Linked DNA regions of Homo sapiens. The protein of the gene in region 3 purifies or fractionates together with the protein of the main gene of each other region. This does not show direct contact. Each region holds a gene or a part of one and is shown on either strand. Other genes may lie near its edges.

The links.
Region 1: the proteins of APIP (region 3) and FASTKD2 purify together in Homo sapiens (affinity purification with mass spectrometry; 3 studies listed by BioGRID and IntAct, with this or other methods). This does not show direct contact.
Region 2: the proteins of APIP (region 3) and SDR9C7 purify together in Homo sapiens (affinity purification with mass spectrometry; one large-scale study listed by BioGRID and IntAct). This does not show direct contact.
Region 4: the proteins of APIP (region 3) and LYG2 purify together in Homo sapiens (affinity purification with mass spectrometry; 3 studies listed by BioGRID and IntAct, with this or other methods). This does not show direct contact.
Region 5: the proteins of APIP (region 3) and HEPHL1 purify together in Homo sapiens (affinity purification with mass spectrometry; 3 studies listed by BioGRID and IntAct, with this or other methods). This does not show direct contact.
Region 6: the proteins of APIP (region 3) and SERPINA12 purify together in Homo sapiens (affinity purification with mass spectrometry; one large-scale study listed by BioGRID and IntAct). This does not show direct contact.
Region 7: the proteins of APIP (region 3) and POF1B purify together in Homo sapiens (affinity purification with mass spectrometry; one large-scale study listed by BioGRID and IntAct). This does not show direct contact.

Annotation. Positions count from the first base shown.
Region 1 is NC_000002.12:206,793,106-206,796,605, reverse strand, and holds the end of FASTKD2 (FAST kinase domain-containing protein 2, mitochondrial), read right to left. Parts: 3' UTR 417-3,500; downstream 1-416. UniProt on the Homo sapiens protein: Plays an important role in assembly of the mitochondrial large ribosomal subunit.
Region 2 is NC_000012.12:56,924,409-56,927,908, forward strand, and holds part of SDR9C7 (short-chain dehydrogenase/reductase family 9C member 7), read right to left. Parts: intron 1-3,500. UniProt on the Homo sapiens protein: Plays a crucial role in the formation of the epidermal permeability barrier.
Region 3 is NC_000011.10:34,906,380-34,909,879, reverse strand, and holds part of APIP (methylthioribulose-1-phosphate dehydratase), read left to right. Parts: intron 1-3,500. UniProt on the Homo sapiens protein: Catalyzes the dehydration of methylthioribulose-1-phosphate (MTRu-1-P) into 2,3-diketo-5-methylthiopentyl-1-phosphate (DK-MTP-1-P).
Region 4 is NC_000002.12:99,245,667-99,249,166, reverse strand, and holds part of LYG2 (lysozyme g-like protein 2 precursor), read left to right. Parts: intron 1-2,346; coding exon 2,347-2,487; intron 2,488-3,500. UniProt on the Homo sapiens protein: May act as a potent antibacterial protein that may play a role in the innate immunity.
Region 5 is NC_000011.10:94,024,354-94,027,853, reverse strand, and holds part of HEPHL1 (ferroxidase HEPHL1 precursor), read right to left. Parts: intron 1-3,500. UniProt on the Homo sapiens protein: Is a copper-binding glycoprotein with ferroxidase activity. It oxidizes Fe(2+) to Fe(3+) without releasing radical oxygen species. May be involved in the regulation of intracellular iron content.
Region 6 is NC_000014.9:94,486,779-94,489,624, forward strand, and holds the end of SERPINA12 (serpin A12 precursor), read right to left. Parts: coding exon 2,842-2,846; intron 717-2,841; coding exon 525-716; 3' UTR 501-524; downstream 1-500. UniProt on the Homo sapiens protein: Adipokine that modulates insulin action by specifically inhibiting its target protease KLK7 in white adipose tissues.
Region 7 is NC_000023.11:85,278,666-85,282,165, reverse strand, and holds part of POF1B (protein POF1B), read left to right. Parts: exon of another isoform or gene 1-51; intron 52-2,739; coding exon 2,740-2,745; 3' UTR 2,746-3,500. UniProt on the Homo sapiens protein: Plays a key role in the organization of epithelial monolayers by regulating the actin cytoskeleton. May be involved in ovary development.

The DNA.
Region 1 (3,500 bases), on a different chromosome or scaffold from region 3:
AACCAGCCAGCAGTATACACAGGTGTTCCTAGTGGGTCTTAATAACATTAAGTGTCTGTAACCCTGAGTGAAATTCTTTTTAAATTCTTTTTTCTTTTTTGAGACATGGTTTCACTCTGATATCCAGGTTGGAGTGCGGTGGCACAATCTTGGCCCACTGCAGCTTCGACCTCCTAGGCTCAGGCGATCCTCCCACCCCAGCTTTCTGAGTAGTTGGGACCACAGGTGCATGCCACCACACCCAGTTAATTTTTCTATTTTTTGTACAGGTGGGGTTTTGCCATGTTGCCAGGCTGGTCTCAAACTCCTGGGCTCAAACGATCCTTCTGCCTTGGCTTCCCAAAGTGCTGGGATTACAGGTGTGAGCCACTGTGCCCGGCCCTGAGGGAAATTCTTTAAAAGCAAAATTCACAAACTTTTAAAGCAAAGTATCCAATTTTTATTGATTCTATAACATATATATGTGCATATATTGTAGTATCTTTATCAATCAGGATTTACTTGCTGATAACAGAAACCACTGCAACCTAGTTTAGACACAATGTGCTTTTGTTAGTTTCTGGCCATGCACAGAAGCCTCCTGCTTACAAGATGAATGGAAAGGCTGAAGGAGCAGCCTTTAGTCTGACTTCCAGGAATGACTCTCAGAACACTATCACATAACTGGCTGTCCAGAAGAGATGCTATCTCTGCTTACAGCCTGGAAGCTGGAAAGTCATGAAGATGCTGCCCATTGCTGGCTCCAGAGCCACATTATTTTAGCCACAATCCCCACCAGCAAAATGGATGCTCCTCGTCCTGCCACACCACACCCTGGGGTCTCTGTTATTGCTCTTCTAGAAAAATAAAATGCTCTGTGGCTGTTTGTTGGCAGAAACATTACCTCTATCTCATTTGGCCTTCCCAGTTTCAAGTAGGTACATCTGCATAGAGGAAGCTAAGTCACATTTGGAATTCAAGCTGAAAGGGGCTCTGGGAAATGTAGGCTTCAGCTTTTTTTGGATCCACCAGTGAGTCACGGCACACCTGTGTGCACAAATGGGTTACAAGTGTGTTAAGAGATAGCCATCTTGGACCGGGGGTGGTGGCTCACGCCTATAATCCCAGCACTTTGGAAGGCCAAAGGCGGGCAGATCGCAAGGTCAGGAGATCGAGACCATCCTGGCTAACATGGTGAAACCCTGTTTCTGCTAAAAATACAAAAATTAGCCGGGCATGGAGGTGGGCACCTGTAGTCCCAGCTACTCGGGAGGCTGAGGCAGGAGAATGGCTTGAACCCAGGAGGCGGAGCTTGCAGTGAGCTGAGATCACGCCACAGCACTCCAGCCTGGGCGACAGACCACGACTCCGTCTCAGGAAAAAAAAAGAGATAGCCATCTCCTGCCTTCTGGGCAGCCACTGCCCTCCTGGCCAGGAAGCTCCACACCTAGGTCTCCCTACAAGTCAGCGCAAAACAGGGTGGAGTCTGATGGTCCACCTCTCAGGCCCTGTGAATGAAGAGTATGAGAGAGATCTGTCCTTTGCTGCCTGGCTGTGATGTGCTGTGTGAAGACAAGGCTGTGCCACGTCCCTCGCCAGCTACCTAAGTGGCTTGCTGCTGAGTGAGCCACTGACCATCATAACTGCTGGGTAATTTCATGGAAAAGTGCAGTCAGTTGGGATTTGAGGAATGCCAGCTCCTCATAGGTAGTTCCAAGTAGATGCCCCAAATCTCTATCTTACAGAAACTTCTATTTGCTTAGAGATGTCCAAGCCAGTTGCAGGGTGACTACCCTCACAACACATGACATTCTATAAATTGGAATGTCATTGTTATTTGGAAATACTTGATATGAATAGTTCAATTGCATTTGAGGTCCATGTGTATTATCACAAAAAAAATACCATCACATTTTGTCAATGACAAGAAGAGTTGTTAGGCTATGTATATATGAAATTTTCAATTTTTGAATGTTTTTTAAAAGTTCTAAACTGTTTAATCAGCTTTGTGTAAAGAAAGTTTCTATTCAGTGGTAACTACTGAGAATTCGGAGAGCTGGTAAATGTCTCAATCAAGAATTGAGCTGGGCACAGTAGCCTGTACCTATAATCAGTCCTATCTACTTGAGAAGCTGAGGCAGGAGGATCCCTTGAGCCCAGGAGTTTGAAGCTAGCCTGGGTAACATAGCAGGGCCCCATCTTTAAAAATCTAAAAATTAAAATTAAAAAATAATAAAAAAGAATTGCATGTAGCTATTTCAAGAATACAATTTTATATCTTGTATCTAGAGCAAGATCAACCTTTTCATTAGGGATTCTGAAAAAAATATTTGGATATCTCACACAAAATGAGCATTTAATATATTTCCTAATTTTTTTCTATGTGTGCCATAGATCAGTGGTTGTTTAGGGGACAGAGAAAAAAGCAAAGACAGGAACCTTTTAGAGGTGATAGATATATTCATTATCTTGATTGTGGTTTCACAGATGTGTGTGTGTGTGTATGTACGTCAAAACTGACCTAACGGTACACTTTAAATATATGCAGTTTACTGTATGTCAATTATACTATAATAAAGCTATTTTTTAAATTATGGGAGAAGAAAACCCCACAAAGTACATTCCAGAAAGGTATTAATTTACAGTCTACCAACAGCTTATGCAAGTGCTTGCCTCATTATACCTTCATCAGCACTGTAATTCTTAAAAGAAAAAAAACTGCTAATTTGAAAGGCAAAACCATCTCTTCTGTTTCAATGTGCATGTCTTTACAAGTAGACTGAACTTTTTTCATGTTCATCAGCTCTTTGCCCATTTTTCTTTCATTGACACAAAGCAATGAAGAATGCTAACACTAGAATGCTAGTAAAAGAGGGATGCCTTTTTATCTGCCAGGTTAACTAGTACAAACTGAAAATTACTACCCTAAAAGGTGGTCATAAATATTCACAAATTTGTCAAATCCTTTGAAGAGGAGTCATAATTAGACACTCAAAACTGATGCACACTCAACATTTAAAGACAAAACCTTAGTTCCTTTAATAACAGAATATCTGCATCTTGTTCTGAAGCTTATAAGGTTAAATCACTTGGCCAAGTATACAAAACTAGAGGTTGTCCAATCTGGAACCAGAAGCCTGATCTCCTGGGACACAAGCTGAAGAGCAGGTGAGGATGAAATGATGTGGAACCAATGGCATAGCTGAGACTTCAGGAAAGGAAAATTCTTTGAGCCTTATCTTCCTCGTCCATAAAATGAGGGAAGTAACAATTAAATAATCACTAAATTTCCTTTCAGCTCTAACCTTTTCTAAATGCAAGCTGGATAAATTGATACAACCTGGCAGCTGTTGTCATATTGCTATAGTTTTTGTATTTTTTTTTTTTTTTTTTTTTTTTTTTTTTTGAGACAGAGTCTCGCTCTGTGGTCAGGCTGGAGTGCAGCAGGACCATCTTGGCTCACTGCAATCTCCACCTCCCGGGTTCAAGCGATTCCCCTGCCTCAGCCTCCCCAGTAGCTG
Region 2 (3,500 bases), on a different chromosome or scaffold from region 3:
ACAGAATGACACGCTGTCTCAAAATAAATAAATAAATAAATAAATAAACAAATAGTCTTATTTATCTTTCTGAATTCAACAATTGTGCATTGAAGTCCTACTATTGCATTAGACTGGTGATGAGAAGAACTGTGCACATTCTCCTTATAACTGTGCCGCTTATTAGTTATATGACTTTGAGCTTAAACTTTTATTGTCTATAAAATGGAGATAATACTATCTTTCCTAAAGTTTGGGCATAGTGGCTCAGGCCTGTAATCCCAGTACTTTGGGATGCCAAGCCAGGCCAATCACCTGAGGTCAGGAGTTTGAGACCAGCCTGGCCAACATGGTGACACCTTGTCTCTACTAAAAATACAAAAATTAGGTGAGCGTGGTGGCGCGTGCCTATAATCGCAGCTACTCAGGAGGCTGAGGCATGACAATCACTTGAACTCAGGAGTGGGAGGTTGCAGTGACCCAAGATCGCGCCACTGCATTCCAGCCTGGGCAACAGAGTGAGACTCCATCTCAAAAAATATCTGTCCTGGAGAATAACAAAGATGATTAACAGCAGGGTAGACACTGGGGGAGTACAGAAGAGCAAACATGATGGGAAAACAGCCCTTTTTTTTTTCTTCTATGTACTTCCTAGAGTTCCCACATTTAAACAAAAACATGCAGGAGAAAATATTATTTAAAAATAGTAATACTGCCCCTACCTCAGTCATAAGGCCACTGTCACTCAAATAATCTAAGGCATAGACAAGCACCTCGTGGGGCCCTCACAAATGTGAGGAGTTGTTCTGTTTGCATTGACCCACAGGGGTGGAGATGGGGACAGAGCACCCAAATAGTACAAGTCTGCCAAAGTTCATGACATAAATGGGAGAAGGGCCACACCACACACCCACCAGGCCCTCATCTGCATCCTCACCCCAGGACAGGGGGATTCATGCTTCATTGAGAGCCCTGAGGACTCCAGGGAAAATGATGCTTCAAAGTCAGACTGCCCTGATAAGGTATGAAAACTTGAAAATGGAGAGGAAGCCAAAGCTGCCCTGACTTTGAGAATGGTCCAGGCAGGCAAGGAATTCACCCGCTTGGGGCCAGGACCCTTGTGGGTGGTTGGTGAGAATGGGGCAGCATCACTTCAGTCCCCTTCACCCCAGACTCCGAGAAACTCCATTTTCTGTTTCCTGGAAAGAAAACTGATGCAGGGGAAAAGCCAAACTATATTTTGGGATCTCAACAAGAGCCACACTAACTCAAAGCCAGACTGTCCATAAAGCAGTAATGTCTTAGGAAGCCACACCCTGACCTCTGACCGTAGAGCTGGCACAGAGGCCACCAGCAGCAGGGCTGAGGGTCGAAGGAATCGTTCAGGATGCCCAGGAGGCTCTCTCTGCCCCCTCGGCGCCAGGGAAAGCTTTGTGGGCTGAGGATGTGGAGCAAGCTGACATGGTGAGATGGGCTGGGGACTGGGTTCTGAGAGGTGGGGAGGGCTTGCACAGGCAGTGGGGTGGGAGAAGTTACCCCAGACATGGGGAATGGTATGAGGCACTTGCTTTCATTGTTTTCTCAAATAGATATTAGCTGCCATTCAGTGCTGGGCACCCTGCTAGGCATGGAGTAGGATGGGAGACGGAAGGACCCATCCAGCTTTGTCACTCTCCTTCACAGTGAGGAAGGACATAGGCTTTGGAGCTGGGCACCTGGGAAAATGTTTTTGTTATTGGGAGAATTAAGCAGGACAAAATCTATAAAGTATCAGGCCTGGTCCTAGGGGTTACAAGCCAGGGGCCTGTTTGGTCAGTCACAGCAACTGGCTGAGTTTGTACCCAGCGATGCTCTAGGACTACTCCTAAATATCTCTTCTGTCTGTCACATAGCCACCCCCCACCACCAGAACCATCAGGACTTACAACTTCATGTCTTTATCGTTCCTTCACTGGGTTTCTGCAGTAGTCCCCCAGGTGGACTTTTTATCCTTCCCACGGTGACACAAATCTGATCCTTCATTTCAGAGCCATTTACAAGGCTCTCTAATGCCTTTAGGATAAGAGCCATGCTCCCTACTATAGCAATCAAAGCATTTCATGATCTGACTCCTAATCTCTCCCCTCCTCAATCATCACCCACAGCACTCCTGCCAGACTATAATGGCAATGGCAAAGGTTTGTTCAGCTCTTACTGTAGCAGAGCTGAGTACTTTGCATTTCTGTTTAATTCTCCTAACAATCCATGAGAGAGGAATTGTACTTTATAAATGGATAAACAAGTTTGGAGAGCTATACAACATGATTAGAGGGACTGCTGGAATACAAGCCTGAATCTGCACTGCCTCCAAAAGCATACAATGCTATGTCAGGTCACTAAAACGTTGCTCACACCCTTCCTCTTGTGTGAAACATCCGCCATCTCTTTCCCTTTTGGTGTACTCCTATTCATCCTTCAAAACTCACTAAGGCATTAACTGTCACCTCTGTAAGGCTTCTGTGACAGCAGAATGAAGTCTGCATTGCTGCTTTGTTTTGTATGCATGTCCATTATAGCAAGATTCTTCATGTGGTGGTGTATTTGCTTTCACATCTTCCCTGCTAGTTTCCTGGAGAGTGTCTCATCTCTGAATCCCAATAAACACTGGGCAACTGAAGCAAAAATTCTAGTATAACCACTTGGGAAAACGTTTATCTAAATGTAGTTGACCACTGCCTGAAAATTTTCCTCTGAAATTATGGTGTGGACTACAGGTGAATTGGCCTAAGATATTTTATAAACCCAATCCTTACTATTCTTTAGTACAATACTAGCTTTTGGACAAGGTTTTCGGAGGAGTTTGCCTTTATACATATTCTTTCATGGACCACACTAAAGATGCTACAAGCTCTCTTCACCCTGAGTGCTTACTTAGAAAATGACTTTGTGAGGTTTCCAGACACTGGCTGAACCCATTTCACCCCAGCCTCCAAGCAGCTCCACAAATAATTTGAACTACTCTTTGCTAAGAATGATCACACAGAGGATAAATATTCTTCCCCACACATGCTAACATCTTCTCTCCTTGTTCCCAACAGCTGCAGATTTCCCTCTGGGGACCTATGCCTCCCCCACACTGTGTCCATTGGTCTGGGCAGAGCACACAGCCCAGCCTGAGCCAATCACACCTTCACATTCCCCTGGGCGCAGTGATTGGTTTAGGGTTGGGTGCATCTTGTGGTCCCCCATGACGCGGTCACCATAAGGTCCTCCAAGTCGGAGTGTACATTAGGACTTTTGGGAGAGGTACTGGAAATAACTCTCCTATTTTCCCAGCAGACCTCACCCTAGGTGGAGGTGAAGAGAGGCTGCAGCAATGTGGCTCCCACAGGGGAGAGAGCTTAGAGACTGGAGTCAGTGCAAAAGAAGCAGAGCCAAGAAATGGGTGGAACCAGGTCCTAGCAACATCATTTGCAGTCTGGGTCAGGTTGTACCTGAAGCTTATCTTGCTCAACTTTTTAGTCAGGTGAGGCAAGAAATTC
Region 3 (3,500 bases):
CCAGCTTCTCTCATTTCATGAAAGGCAAGAAGCCCAGTTCCTCCACTAGAGCTCAGGATCTCCAAGCCCTCTCACCTTCTATAATTATTTCTCTCCTTCTCCCCGTGTCTCCTATTAGGAATCATTTCCTTTCTGGTAAGACTGTTGTCATCAGCTTTCAAGCCCTTCCACATCTTGCCCCTACAAATTTATCTTCCGCCACCCTCAGCACTTCCTCACTCTGCTCTAGCCAACTGATCTTCCGCCTGTGAAGTACTTGCTCACTTCAGAGCCTTCACACCTGCTGTTTCCTCTGCCTGGAGTACTTGCCTCTCTCAACACAAAACCTTGCACACACACACGTACTCATTCATCACACACTGGCTTAGTTCATGTCTTTTAGGTCCTAGATTAAATGCCACCTGCTCAGAGAGGCCTTCCTTGACTGCGTTAATCAAAGTTGATCCCTGCCGTTTTTCTCCAAGTCCCATGTTTCTTTCCTGCTTGGCACTTTTTACAGTTTATTTATGTATTCTGTTTACTTTTTAAAAACTCCTCCCCAGAGTGTGAATTCTTTTAGGTCAGGCCCTGGGAATTCAGGTCCAGTTTATAGCTGAATTCCCAGGGCCTAGAAGAGTGTTCAGCACATGGTAATGTTTCTGACCCACATCCCAGGGAACGATATCATCCACTCAGCTACTCAGCTGACCACACACTTGGGAGTCTTTGAAGCCTTCGTTTGTCTCCTTCAGTTTTCTCACCCCAAGTCCTTCATCTTCCAAATGCATCTTCACAGTCCCTTCCTTCCAGCTTCCTTTTTAAACTCTTTCAGCAGCCTCCCTGCTCTTCTGGGCTTTTGCTTTCTTGACCACTGCCTTTCAGCCTCTTTCGTTTACTGACACTGTGCAAATGTTTCCAAAACAGACTCTTATCACATATCTTACGTTTCAAACTCTTTGGTGGTTTTCAATCATCCATGAAATATAGGTCAAAGCCCTGTGCATAGCATAGAAGACCCTTTAGACTCAGCCTCCCTTTTACCTCCATCCTGCAGAACCTAATTTATAACCACTTCCAGCTACTAAGCATTCTTTCTGACTGAAATGCCCTTTCTCCTCTTCACCTACCCAGCATATACTCCCACCGTCCTTCATTAAGACAGATATAAGAAATACCAACATAGAACAGACTACTGGTGTTAATTCAGAAGTCTGGAGATCACTGATCCAGATTATTAATAGAAGGAGACTGATGCCCAGAAAGTATCACTGACTTGCCTTAGGGCACACAGCTAGTGGGGTCCAAGCTAAAAACAGGCTCCATGTCTTCTGATTTCTAGTCAACACTTGACTGATGAGGAGGAGGAGGGTTTTTAAGTGTGGTGAAGGTAGAAGAGAGAGCTGGGGCATTCAAGTAAAGAAAACCAAGATGCATAGAGAGACAAGTGCAACAAGTGTGCAGAATGAAACGAAGACCAAGGACAGAGAGAAAGTATGACTCATCTTTACTGTGCCTGCATTCAGTCCCTTCCTGAGCCCAGTGTCAGGAAAATAAGTGAAAGACTTTGAAACAAACAAAAAGAGTATTTACTGGGTATCTTGGAGTTATTATTATGCTATTTTACAACTCTCAGTTGTGGAATCCTGGCAGTTAACGCAGGTGATTGTTGTTCATGGAAATGCAAGTTGTGTTCAATGGAGATTCATTTTATTGTTAACCTGTGGACAGTATCCAGTTTTGCTAAGTCAGGATTCCTCGTTACTTATATTATGTATGTTTTGAATTCTCCTTTTGAATCAGTTGTAACATCTTACTAGTTTCCCCATTTATTGATGAGTTACTAATCTCATGCATGTTATTTTATACTTGTATGAGAGTCTTCCAGGAAAACCTGTATCTGAGGAATATATGCCTATATTTGCTTAAGTTGAAAGAAAAGATGGGGGAGGGGATTAGAGCCATTGTTGGCTGTGAGTAGTATCTCGGAGACAAGCCAGGCTGATTTCCTTAAAATAACTAGATTGAAAAATTGGAAAAATTAATACCAAATCAAAACTTGTTAGACATTAATGATTTTGATATATACAAAATGCTGTTAAATGTGTTTCCTCCTCACTGTAGAACCTCTACTATAAATAGTTGATTGTAATCAATCTTTAGATACACATTTCAAAATTATTATTATAACTGAAAACCAGATCTAACAATAATAGGAAAGTAATATTGACATTCAGGAGAGAACTAGATACCAATTGAACCTTTCCTTCTTGTCAATTCTTGTTAAAATATATGTTCTGGTAGTTACTTTCTTCTGGACAGTTTAAATGACTTCATTTTCACCAAGTATATCTCTGTTGGTGCCTGCTAAGTGATAATCTCTTTGAAATTTTAATTTTATGGGTCTCAAGGATTGAAAATGTATTAACAGCAGCTGCCTTGTCATTGTTATTGCTTTAGCTTGAAGCTGGCTAATTGCTGTAATATCGCAGCACTGGAAAAGACAAAAGAGAAAGGGGAGACCTGTAATAAAAGACCATTTTCTGTAATGTGTGCTATTTGCTGTGCAAATTGATGGTTTTAAGGGTTGGAAGACTGCAGGAGTCTTCCCATTAGCTGTACTTTAAAATGTAGTTAAAATATCACTTATATCCCTAAATAAGGAAGTAGCAAATTATACAGGCATAGGTAATTTGGGCTAGATTTCTTAAGGACGGATATAAGAAATACCAACATAGTTTTTCCTTAATAACTCCTGTAATATTCCCTTCCTGAGGAGATGTCACCCTAACTGCTGTTAGGGGGTTTTGGGCAAGAACTCTTTCTGGCTACTTCCTGCCGAAAAGGGACATCAAGTGGGGAACAACAGCTAGGGCTCCTCCTGGGGTTGATCTAAGGGTCCTCGGAAGAATGGCACGTCCACGTGTGGTTCGGTTTGCAGCACCATTTGGATTGATTGCTTCTAGGCAAGAGGAAATGATTTGAGTTATAGTATTGAGTATGCAAGGTCCAAATATTAATACAAGACATATAAGTAGGAGTGGACTTAATAAAGGAGCTAACCAATTCCATAAAGAAGACTAGAATTCATTAAAGAGGAATTGTAGCCACCCGGGGCTGAAGCCTGCGTGTTCTTGTAGCCTCTTAATGATTTTGATTTGATCTTTAGGTAGCTGTAGATTTTCCTCTGCTTTACTAGAGGTGTTAATCCAGAAGCAGCATGTTTCATTTATAAGTGCACAGGTACCTCCTACTTCAGCTGTGAGGACGTCTAAGCCCCGTCTATTCTGTGCTGCTACTGTGGTGAAAGAGTCTGTAGATTGCTGTCGTGCCTCTATGGTACCTACAGTTGCCTTCCACCCTTGTTGCATCATAATAGAAATAGTAAGTACTGATCTTTCAAGGAGAGGGAAGCCCGTAATCCAGACTAGACCTCTGGCTATAGAATTTCCCATTCATGGTTTTTCTAAGATGGGATTGTCATGTGCATGCCCTCCCCAGTCTGCTCTTTCAGTTAAATCTCC
Region 4 (3,500 bases), on a different chromosome or scaffold from region 3:
TTCTAGGCATAAGCCACAACATCCAGCCCTAAGTACTGTCTTATAACAAATATTTGGACTCTTAAGGTACAAGTTAACAGTCCTTGAAACCGTTAGAACAAACTTTTCAACATTACAGAAAATAACTTTGTATCTCCTTTAGCAAAAGCTCTGCCTCTCCTGTAACAGGTAGACTTGGACAGAAATTCACTTTTTAATGACAGAACAAAAAGACAAGAATAGATTTGACTTAAATTATTTTGGCAAATTCAATTTTTACTTCTAATTTTATTAAATATACATAGGAACTCAACTTCACAGTAAATGATATATAATAAGAATATATTTAAATTGTTATGGTGCCCTTCTTTCTTATCTTTCTAAACAAAGGCAAATTGGTTTTTTTTGAATTTTATTTATTTATTTTTATTTTATTTTATTTTATTTTATTATTATTATACTTTAAGTTTTAGGGTACATGTGCACAATGTGCAGGTTAGTTACATATGTATACATGTGCCATGCTGGTGTGCTGCACCCATTAACTCGTCATTTAGCATTAGGTATATCTCCTAATGCTATCCCTCCCCCCTCCCTCCACCCCACAACAGTCCCCAGAGTGTGATGTTCCCCTTCCTGTGTCCATGTGTTCTCATTGTTCAATTCCCACCTATGAGTGAGAACATGTGGTGTTTGGTTTTTTGTCCTTGGTGATAGTTTACTGAGAATGATGATTTCCAATTTCATCCATGTCCCTACAAAGGACATGAAGTCATCATTTTTTATGGCTGCATAGTATTCCATGGTGTATATGTGCCACATTTTCTTAATCCAGTCTATCATTGTTGGACATTTGGGTTGGTTCCAAGTTTTTGCTATTGTGAATAGTGCCGCAATAAACATACGTGTGCATGTGTCTTTATAGCAGCATGATTTATAGTCCTTTGGGTATATACCCAGTAATGGGATGGCAGGGTCAAATGGTATTTCTAGTTCTAGATCCCTGAGGAATCGCCACACTGACTTCCACAATGGTTGAACTAGTTTACAGTCCCACCAACAGTGTAAAAGTGTTCCTATTTCTCCACATCCTCTCCAGCACCTGTTGTTGCCTGACTTTTTAATGATTGCCATTCTAACTGGTGTGAGATGGTATCTCATTGTGGTTTTGATTTGCATTTTTCTGATAGCCAGTGATGGTGAGCATTTTTTCATGTGTTTTTTGGCTGCATAAATGTCTTCTTTTGAGAAGTGTCTGTTCATGTACTTCGCCCACTTTTTGATGGGGTTGTTTGTTTTTTTCTTGTAAATTTGTTTGAGTTCATTGTAGATTCTGGATATTAGCCCTTTGTCAGATGAGTAGGTTGCGAAAATTTTCTCCCATTTTGTAGGTTGCCTGTTCACTCTGATGGTAGTTTCTTTTGCTGTGCAGAAGCTCTTTAGTTTAATTAGACCCCATTTGTCAATTTTGGCTTAAGAAAGGCAAATTGTTAATCTAGATGTTCACATCTCCAGAGGCATTTGTGTCAGAAATGTTTTAAAATTCCTCTCAAAACAATAGACACTGGGGACTGTAAAAGGAAGGAGGGAGGGAGGAAGGTAGGGAGGCAAGGGTTGAAAACTACACATCAGGTACTGTGTTCACTATTTGGGTGAAGGATCAATAGAAGGCCAATCCTCAGCATCACACAATATGCCCACGTAACAAACCTGCACATGTACCCCCTGAATCTTAAAAAAAAAAAAAAAACTCTCAAGTTTCCTGCTTAAAAACCTGTCAGTTTTAATTCTGACATAGAGCATGGTATGACTACAGTGCCTGTAATCCCAGCACTTTGGGAGGCCAAGGAGAGAGGATCGCTTGAGCACAGGAGTTTGAGACTAGCTTGGGCAACATAGCAAAACCCCATCTCTACAAAAAGAGAAAATAAGCCAGTCCTGGTGATATGCACCTGTGGTTCCAGCTACTCAGGAGGCTGGGGTGGGAGGATAGTTTGAGCCCAGGTGTTGGTGCCTGCAGCGAGCTATGATCATGCCACTGCACTCCAGCCTGGACAACAGAGCAAGACCTTGTCTCTTAAAAAAAGGAAAAAAAAAGACTGCACATGTATTTAGGATCTATAAGAGATGAATTTCATAATATTTTGCATAGAGTTTTCAGATTACGTCCTGTGTTAATACAAAACAAAACAAAAGATCGGAGCAGAGTGGGCATGGGGAACTTCTGTCTGAGGAACAAATAATGGCAACAAGAGAGTTGGGGAGTTCTGTCTGTGGCCTTCTGCCTTTGGTTTAGTGATGTTTATTGCAGCAACCCAAGTAATATCTTCTCAGAGGATTCATGTGAGTTACACTTCTGCCTCCTAGGCACTTCCAGGGGCTCATACCCCTTCAGTCACTCAATGAAGCCTCACCTACATCCACGCCTGTACCACGGCTGCTATGGGGACATCATGACCATGAAGACCTCTGGGGCCACTTGTGATGCAAACAGTGTGATGAACTGCGGTAAGTGAAAAGCAGAGCAAATGACTGGCTTCCCCCTTTCATCGTTTTCAGATTCTTTCTTAGGAAGTCACTTAATTTTGAAAAGGTATAATCATCATTATGACAATAGTATCAAAATTAAAAATGAGCAAAAACCACAATCCTGACCAATCTAACAACCAGCTTCTTTTCATTTTCCACCCCCATTCTTTCCAAACTTTGTCCAGCTGTGTTTATTTCCATGTATTGAAACTACTGCTTGAATAAATATTAGACTCTGGCTTTGTTTTTTGGGTGGTGCTGCTGTGTTTGCTTCATGTTACACATGACCATTTGAAGCAATACTGTTCCAAAGTCGTCTTCATCACGTTATCCTGGTTTTAGAGTGTCGGAGCTGGCAGCAACCACAAGGTCACATCAGACCCCAACCCCTCAAATTTACAAATCAGAGCCCAAAGACTCAGCAAGGAGGGGAATACTTCCCAATAGAACAGAACCAACTAGTGGCGGAGCCAGGCTAAAACATGCATTGGCTAACTCCTAGTACAACAGGCTTCCCAGTGCACTAGTGTGGCAGAATTTTTTTTGTGTGTATGACAGAGTCTTGCTTTGTCACCCAGGCTGGAGTGCGATGGCATGATCTCGGCTCACTACAATCTCCACCTCCCAGGTTCAAGCGATTCTCCTGCCTCAGTCTCCTGAGTAGCTGGGGTTACAGGTGCCTGCCACCAAGTCCAGCTAATTTTTGTATTTTTAGTAGAGATGGGGTTTCACCATGTTGGCCAGGCTAGTCTTGAGCTCCTGACCTCAAGTGATCTGTCCACCTCGGCCTCCCAAAGTGCTGGGATTACAGGCATGAGCAATTTGAAGGAGAAACAGAGCAGAAGCGACACCTGTTGGGGGTTGTGGATCTGTTTGTTTCTGCAGTCAGAGATCAAAAGGATGTCTTAGAATGGTTGTCCCAAGTCATTAGCAGTGATCAGAGGCTGTGGCTAACTTAGCAAATTTTTAAAAATGGTTTTCTTCTGAAGTAG
Region 5 (3,500 bases), about 59 Mb from region 3:
TGCTTCTATATACATTCTTTCACTCTGGGTCCCTGGCACCACCTATGTCTTGGGTCCTTCCTTTTCACTCTTCATTTCCACAGAAGCCCTTCATATACAAGGTGTGTTCAAAACAAATGGCATGATGAGGGGGAATGAAAATGAGCTTGAATCCCAACTCTCTCACTTGCTGGTTGTGAAATGGGGAAGAGACTTAACCTCTCTGAACCAGTTTCCTCTGCTGTAAAGCAGTGACCATGGTAGAGCTATCATAAGGATTCAATGAGAAGAGGTGTAGAGCCACACACACAGCAACTGGGAGAGTGGTGCTGAATCAATGACAGTTATGATTATTTCTGGTAAAGCGTAAAGCTTTGTTAGAAAAGAGGAAAATGTGACCAGCCAAGGTCTTTCCCCCAGGGCTCCTGCTCTCCAAAGAACCCCGTGAGACGGCAGAGCTACCACGAGAGCTGATCAAGTGCTCTCAAGTGGCAGGCACTGTGTCTGAGTATGTGCAGATCCTAAGTCCCAAAGATAACTCCGCAGTCCTCATCCACAGAAACTTATTGGAAAAATGGGTCTTTGCAGATGTGATTAAGTTAAGGATCTTGAGATGGGGAGATCATCCTGGATTAGCTGGGTGGGCCCTAAACACCATCAAAAGCATCCTTATAAGTAAGAGGCAAAGATAGGCTAGACACACAGAGAGAAGACGACGATATGAAAATGGAGGCAGAGATCAGAGTGATGCAGCCACAGCCAAGGAATGCTGGCAGATACCAGAACCTGGAAGAGTCAAGGAATGGCCCCTCCCTTAGAACCTCCAGAGGCATTGTGGCCCTGACAACACATGCAGTTCAGACATCTGGCCTCCAAAACTGGGGGAGAATAAATTGCTGTTGTTTGAAGCCACCTAGTTTGTAACTTGTTACAGCAGCCACAGAAAACTGATACACCCTCAAAGCAAGTACTGTCACTATCCCTATTTTACTGATGAGAAAACTGAGGCAAAGAGAGATTGAATTACTTGCCCATAAAGTGGGGCAAGAATTCTAAATGTGACAGTTGATGCCAGAGCCCCATACTTTACCAGCAAACTGGACTGCCTTGGCATCTCCCTAAGACCAAGGCTGGGCTACACTTGGCTGGAGAAATCCTCCCGATGCCACCTGATCTCCCTCCCAGAGACAGAAGATTGGTCACCCCACTTCATGGTGTGCTAACCTTTTAAAGCAATGCCTGGAGCATAGTAAATACTCAGTGACACTTAGCTAACTTATTATACTGTCAATGAGTTATCTTTCAGATCCTGCTAACCAGGCCTTGGGGGTCCATCATATGGAGGTGGGAAAAGCAAGATGGGGACTAAGAGGATGCCTGTGAATCATGGAAAACAGGAGAGAACTGAGGTAGGGGAGGGGAGCAGGGACTGCCAGCTGCCTTGCAATATTCATGCTCCCCTTCTTTCTTAGTGTCAGAGGTAAATTCTATCTTTATTCAGGCAGAAAAGTACACAGCTGAAACGTTATATTTTTTCAAGTCCTCTTTGTGGCTATGAGTATCCAATGAGATTTAAGTAAAATTGGTTGGGTAGGGTTTCAATGAGAACCCTTTGAAAGGCTGATGCAGCAAAAATTGTTCTGCTTCTACCTTTTGCCTTTCTCTCTTTCTTCCTGGAATGTAGACACGATGGCTGGAGATCCAACAGCAATCTTGTGACCATGAATGTGCTTGAGGAGGGAAACCACAAAGGGTTTAAAGCACATAGGCTAAGGATGGTGGATCAGAAATACAGAAAGCCCCTGATATCTTGTTATACCATCTATCCCACCAGCCTTGGACTGCCCACTTCTGGATTCTTCTACAAATGAATACAAAATCCTAATTTGTTAAAGACATTATACTCCAGTCTCTAGTGGCAGCCAGAAACAATCACTTACTGATATAGGGTAGAACAGCAGTTCCCAGAGATTCATATGGCATCAGTCCAAACAAAATATTTTTGGTGCTGATAAGACAGAAGTTGAGATTTGAAAGTTACCATTTGTTTAGACCATGCACTTACCAGATGATATTCTTTTCTTTATTTCAAAGCTCACAAAAACCTCTGTCTCCTCCCTGCTTCCCCTCAGTTGGTCCTTCTTTCAGATAGATGTGTGAGTTCTCTCTCACACCTATCCTAGGGCCTGCTTCTTAGAATACTCAAAGCCCCTTGCCATACACTGGGCTGATGCAGTGATGTGGCTGGGTCAACTAACAGACTCTACAAAAATGGGGTTTGAGCAGTGGCTAGCCTCACTTATGTTCAAGCGCAGTTCCACCCATGAGTTAGCGTCCATGAAAACCCTGCATTTCACTGGGAAGAAAAAGGCTGAATGTGTGTTGATGGCCTAATGAGGTCTATGGTGAGAACTGTGGCTTTAAATAAGATGACCCCACCCTACTTCCATTAAGGATCAGGCTTTACCACCAAACACACACCTTAATTAAGGACTTTATGAGCCTGAGCAGGACTGGTATAAATAGATCAAAATACTGACACCATCCCCAGGCAACTCAAAGGAGCCCAGTGTCCCCATTTACTCCAAGGAGGAGGAGAAGTATATTTATCTGGAGAAAGTATTTCTAAATAGAATCTAACTCCTAAATCCTATACTTTCTAGGAAACATTAGTGATTATAGACTCAATTATATTTTTGAACCCTATAATCAAGCATAGGTACCAAGCATAAAAGTTAATTTGCACCATCTGAGGGCTATAGAGTCTCAGCAAAATGATTTCAATTCATTTTCGATCTCGTCCTTGTGCATAAGGATGTGCCTAACTTTGGTTTCCAAATGTTTTCACATTACTGAAACTTTGGCACCCACCATCTTGTTCCCCAGATTTTTGCCCATTCCCCTTATTCAAAGATAAAACAACCAGAACAACTCAGTTGATAAGGTGATTAGCTTTTACTTCAATGATTTTGAATGCCTGCCCTGTACTGGATCCTCCATAGGATATTGTCAATGACAAAGTTCCGTGCAGGGAAGGGGGATTATTGAATATACGCCAAAACTTCTTATCTATCATCAGGGTGTTTTACTGCAGTTGCAGACATGACTAATGTACATCAAGCAATTAGAGGGCAATGCAGAGGGAAGAAAATGCAGTGTCCAAGTTCATGATAAAGACCCCAAGCTCCATGAGTGGTTAGGAAGGAAACAGATCAGTACAAGCCAGGGTCATGGGGGAAAGCTTCATGTATGAAGTGAGGAATTGGAGATAATTCTTAAAGGACAGGGGAAAAAATGGAGAAAGAAAAATAAAGACTACTTCAAAAGTTGTCACATATGCCCACGATCAGTCCCAGGTCTTCTCCAACTCTAATTTCTAGGACTGAACATTTGCAAATCATCTCTCTCCTTTCTTTCACCATTGCAAAAATCTTTCTAGAACTGGCAAGTCAGGAAAGATATTTTTCATTCAGTTTCAAAATTATTTCTAATGCTTTGGCATTACACTTCTCAAGTGACTC
Region 6 (2,846 bases), on a different chromosome or scaffold from region 3:
GGACCGACTTTGTTAAAGCACTGAACTAGCTTCCTTGGAGCCCCAAAGGGAGGGGCGGGACCTTCACTTCAGAAATAAGAAGACAGACTCAGAGAGGGTTTGTGGCTTTCCCAAAGATACCTCATTCCAGGATTTGAACCCCAGTCTCTCACTCGAGACCCCAGGTACTTGCTGTGGCCCATACCTTCCCCAAATTATCCACCAACAGCCAGTCAACCTGGGGCAGGGCTGTGGGGGAGAAACATTTGTTTACTAAATCACAGAGTCCCTCTGCCCGCTGGAGGGGAGAGGAGAATGCCACCAAGTGGGCGGGGGTGGGGCATTGCATCCCAGCATTTGAATGGGCAGGGAGGAAATGGGGCACAGGACTTCTAGAACTTGCAGTTTTGCTCATTCGGGCTGTCTAGGGAGGTGGTGACAGGGAGAGACTAAACTGAAATGTGCCTGTGACTTCCATCTCAGGAAGATGGAACATGTTCAACCCCAAGCCATGTTCGGGGTCTGTGGCAAGCAGGAATTCTCCTTTATTTTCCAATAGGGTTAACAATCTTTCCCAGGAAGAGCACGGAAGGTATTTTCTCGCTGTAAATCAGCAGCAGATAGGGTTTGTCTATCTTGACGACGAGTGGTGTCTCCATGGGCAGAGTCTGTGCTCCGGTGCCAGCGGCCCCTTCCGTACCCCTCTCATCCATCTTCAGCTCAGCCTTGTGCACAGCCTACGGAAGCCAAGGGCAAAGTCAAGGTCTGCCAAGCTCCTTGGCGACCACAGTGGGCCGGAGGCCCAGAGAGGATCAGAGAGGAAGACCACTTGGCCCAAGCCATCCAGCACAGCAGTAACTTGGTTTACTCCAGGGTTCCTGGCTCTTTCGCCATTAATGCTGGAGAATATTCGACAAGCAGATGCCGTGTGAAGGAAAAGATGGTGCAGGGGGAGCATCAGTTACGGGAGTCGGTGGGGGGAGAGATGGAGTGGGGTTTGCTTCTCTTTCTCATGGGTTACAGGGAAGCATCAACCATAGCCGTGGCAGAAAGGTCTACTGGGCTGTAGCTGGGTGAAAGTGAGGTGGTGGTACCCCCACCCTGAAGCCTCCAGCACCTCCTTTCATCCACCTGGTGGATGGTTAAGAGGGAGAAGGATTCTGGATTAGCTCTTTGAGATGACTTGCATCCCAAATCCACTCCAAAGGCATCAACGTCTGTAAACAGGTGATCAGTACTGGGAAACTAACGGGCATGTGTGAAATCCTGGCACATTTCTTGCTAGCCTACAAAATTCTCACAATTTTACTTGCAGAAAACAGGACAGTATCCTGTGTTACAATCACAGCTATCAGCAAACGTAACTACAGAAAGAAATGAGCCATTAAACTCAACAAGACCTTCAGAGCTGGTGTTAAATGTTTGTGGGAAGTCTGTGGCAGGAAAGCTCAAAAGTGAGAAAATTCTAGTAACTATGTTTCTTATGTCAACGTGAAAAATACAGTGGAATCTGTGCCATCTGATTCAGAGCAGCGGGCTCAGCTTGGCAAGCTGGATCCTTCCCAGACTGGCTTGAACCTCCCACTTTATCTCCACTAAGCACCCAATCCCCACCACCCACTACTCCATGATATCCAAAAACCCCCAGCCTTGGCCACACTGCTGCACCCATCCCCGCACCCATCTCTGCTTGTTGAAATCTTTCCCCTCCTTCAATGCCTTTTTAACCCCAAAGTAGGGTTGCCAGGTGAAATACAGGACATCCACTGAAATTTGAATTCAAGATAAACAATGAATATGTTTTAGTGTAAGTGTGTCCCGTGAAATATTCTGAACATACTGGCACTAAAAATATTATTCATCATTTATCTAAAATTCAAATTTAATTGGGTATCCTGTATGAAATCTGCTAAATCCGGTGACTCTACCTATATGGTGCTCTCTTCTTGCCCCAGACAGTCAGGTGCTCACCTTTGCCAGGGGCCACAGGCCCCTTTGCTTGGTCATCTCTTCCTATGCAGCATATGCTTATGCCAACTCATATGAAACATGTGGCCTTGGGCGCGGTGGCTCACGCCTGTAATCCCAGCACTTTGGGAGGCCAAGGTGGGTGGATGACCTGAGGTCAGGAGTTTGAGACCAGCCTGGCCAACATGGTGAAACCCTGTCTCTACTAAAAATACAAAAAAATTAGCCGGGCATGGTGGCGGGCGCCTGTAATCCCAGCTACTCGGGAGGCTGAGGCAGGAGAATTGCTTGAACCTGGGAGGTGGAGGTTGCAGTGAGCTGAGATCGCACCACTGTACTCCAGCCTGGGTGACAGTGCAAGACTCCTTCAAAAAACAAAATAAAAGAAAGAAAGGAAGGAAGGAAGGAAGAGAGAGAGAGAGAGAGAAAGAAAGAAAGAAAGAAAAAAAGAGAGAGAGAGACAGAGAAAGAAAAAGAAAGAAAGAGAGAAAGAGAGAGAGAAAGAGGAAAGAAAGAGAGAGAGAAAGAGAGAAAGAAAGAGAAAGAAAGAAAGAAAAGAAAGAAAGAAAGACGGATGTGGCCTTTGAGAGAGGGTCTGGGTTAGACCTAGACCAGTTCTAGGCCTGATAACTGTTCCAGGCCTTGATCAACGTTTGCTACATTGAATTGATTTCCAAAATAGCAGCAGTTTTAAAGACTGGAAGCATGAGGCTGGGGGAGGTTATGTGGTTTGCCCAGGATCACGGGGTTGGTAAGGGGCACAGCTGCATTCATGCCCGCCCCGACTGGTGGGTGGAGTCTCGGCTCTGACAGCCACTGTGACCCTGGCTCTGGCCCCGGCTGGGGGAAGGCCCCTGTGCTGCAGGGAGTGGAGTCCAGGCTAGGCAGGCTTACCTCGC
Region 7 (3,500 bases), on a different chromosome or scaffold from region 3:
ATATATGTACAGCCTTTTAAAATTGAGGTAAAATATCAAATGAACTAAAAACTTTGAGTATTTTTTTCTTTTGAGATTTTCTGTTTCCATTATTGATATACAGTGGGAATTAACAAATTTTGGAAAGATTCATACATGTGGCAATATAATTGATTATTTAAGCTATAATATAAATATAATTTTTGCCCCTCAAAAGGAAGAAGATTAACATTAGTGATATGCTAATTTTATTTATTTTCTTGCCTAGCTCGGTAGTTATTGAATGGGTTCCATTAAAATTTTCCAAAACAGTTTCCCTTTTTCTAAAGCAGGTAGCAAATATCATAGACAATTATGAAGGCAACTGGAAAATGGAGAAGAGGCATGTTTCAATAGAATTTGTCTTGCAATCTTGCATGTGGTACTTATTCCTGTGGATTTTATATATATATATATTATATATATTAGGATTTAGAAAGAAGAGATGTTTCTAGCTTCCTCACTAGACTGTAACATCCTCCAGCCTTAAATCCCACAGTTATAGTGAGGTTGCTGAAGAGTACTTTAAACATCATATACTCCAATATTTACTCTACCTTCTACAACATCCTCCAAAATGGCCAGGTGACATGGACCTTAGCATCTTTCTAAGTGGTCCAATCCATTGCTAAGGGGACTGATTATTGAAACCTTCTTATAAAGGACTGAGAGCTACTTCCCTAAAACTTTTACATATTGCTCTATTAACTTTTAAAGTAATGATCATCAAATAGGGGATATATAGTTGTCCCTCAATATCCATGAGAGATTGGTTCCAGGATCCCCTACAGATATCAAAATCTGTAGATGCTCAAGTCCCTTATCGGCATAATATTTGCATATAACCTATGCACATCTTACTGTATACTTTAAGTCATTTCTAGCTTACAATAACTAATTCAATGTAAATTCTAAGTACGTGTCATACCGTCTTGTTTAGGAGGTAATAACAGTAAAAAAAAAAAAAAGTCTGTACATGTTCAGTACAGAAATGATTTTTTTCCTGAATATTTTCAACCCATCATTGGTGGGGAACCCATGAATACCAAGGGCCAACTATATATTCCCTAGCACAGTTGCTCTCTACAGCAACAATTTTGTACCTTACGGGACATTTAGCAATGTCTAGAGACATTTTTGGTTTTCACAACCAGAGGGGTGGGTGTTATTGGCATCTAGTGGTTAGAGAACTAGGATGCTTCTGAACATACTACGATGTGCAGGACAGTCTCCCATAACAAAGAATTATCCAGCCCCTAATAAGTAGTGTTGAGGTTGAAAAACTCTGCTAACAGAATGCTCTTGGGTTTTTTTCCTAATTATATACTCCTACACTGGTGCAAGAGATTCTAATAGTAAGCCACTGGTAGGGATCATAGGAATGTGTGATATCCTTCTGGTGAAATGAACAGAGAAATGTTTGAGGATTCTAGTTCTCAAATCATACAGATCTGACTTAAAACATTGTGAAAATGACAGCCTTTGACTTCTTATGATAAAATTATCTACCTGTCAAACTACTGAGGTATAAAAGTAGGCAAAACTAAATCTATGGCTATTAAATGAAGAAATGGTTATCCTTGTGGGATGGATACTGATTAAAAGGAAGCATAAGGAGAGATTCAAGGTCTTAATAATGTTCTGTTTCTTTATCTGGGAGATGGTTACATATGCATGTTCGGTTTGGGAAAATTCATTTATTTGAATACTTATAATATGTCCATTTCTTTCTACATGTTTATTGTACTTCAGTAAAAGCCTTAAAATGCTTAAGTGTACCGTGGTGAGCAATAGACAAATATACAAATATCAATCCAGTATTCTGCAGAACCTTTTGAAAAATATTTAAAAATTATGCTTCAGATGTATAGTTAATAAAATTAAACATCTAAACATCTGTTAAATAACTTCTAGAAACATCTTTTGGTTGAACAAGCTCAAATATTTGAGTCAACAAAAAAATTCAAAAAGTTTCTTTAGAGCTGAAGCCCTTCTTTAACTACAATCCAGCCATCAATCTTTTAAGTATGGTTGTTATCATCAATGAAAACAACCAATGTTTAGTAATCCCAAAGTAAAAATAACTGCATTTAAACTCTGAAATGTTGTTTTTGTTAGGTCATTAGTTAGCTGAAAATTACTTACTACTAATTATTAACCCATAGAATTTAAAATTGGCCACTCAAAGATAATTTGATGCCCAAAGTTAAGACTGAGAAGCAATTGCTGCCACTAACCCTAACCACATGTATCCCAGAGGTGGCAATATGAAGACCTGCCAAATAAAGTTTCTACAGAATAGTAGCCACTACTTCTCTCTCCATTAAAAATGTGCAGCAGTAAAAATCAAAATTGATATTTGAAGAATCTATAGATACTGATAGCAAGGTCAGAATATATTTAAATGCATTCACAGATGAAAATCCATATTTATTAAGAGACAATTGGACATATTTAAACTCTAAATATTACTAAGAAGGAAATCTACTTAATTGTCCTTCACTCTTGCTTAAAGTCATTTGAAACATACCATGAGTAAAGTAAGAAAGACAAATCATTGTTTCATTGAATATATATATATAAAAGAGTGCCACAAAAGTGCAATACATGTCCTTTGGTTTTATACATACCAATTTAAATAATTTTCCATAACTTTGCATATAGTAACAATGACTTTAATTATGAACCAGTTGTAAGATAACCTTTTTTTTTCTTTTCTAGCCATGAATGGATCCACTTTAAAGTATTACAACTCAAAGCCGTTTTTTTTTTGTGTGTGTGTCTCTGCATTAGTACTTTGTTATTTTTCCATCACTAAAGGCCAATCAGAATTTGGAACCATGCTGCTACCCAAGAAATCTAATGGAATGAATTAGTTCTGTAGATGACAATTTCTTCACCCATTTATGAGACCTAAATCTTTTCCATAACACTCATGTATTCAGTATAACAACATACTAACTGAAAGAGGGACCTGATTGTTTAAAGTTTGATTGCAGACACTGTAGAACATAACTCATTATGTTTCAGATAAGGTAACTCCTAGATATCAAACTAATTTGTTGGGGTAGAGATTTTACAAGTCATGCCATTAGAAGATTTTCTCTGATATTATATGTGCAGTTCAGTTACAAGATGAAATCATGTTTTTTTAACAAAAGAGATAAAATACAATTGAAGCAAAAAATAACAGCTAGTATATAATATATACAGTCTGTATTTGCTTTTCACAGTAGGCCTGATGACTAAAAGATATGCTTTATTACACGCTATTTTCACCTCTTGAAAGTCAAAGGTGATGATTAATTTCATTTAGCAGGGAAGTGGAATAATATCTTTTGAAATAACTAAGTCCACTAAATTATACAGTATGCTATTCTGGTTCTAAGTACATATTAGTCCCTTGGCAAATCTGTTCTTTCAAAGCATACCTTCCCCAAATGAGCCTACCTACTTCTTAAAAAACATATAACACAATGTGG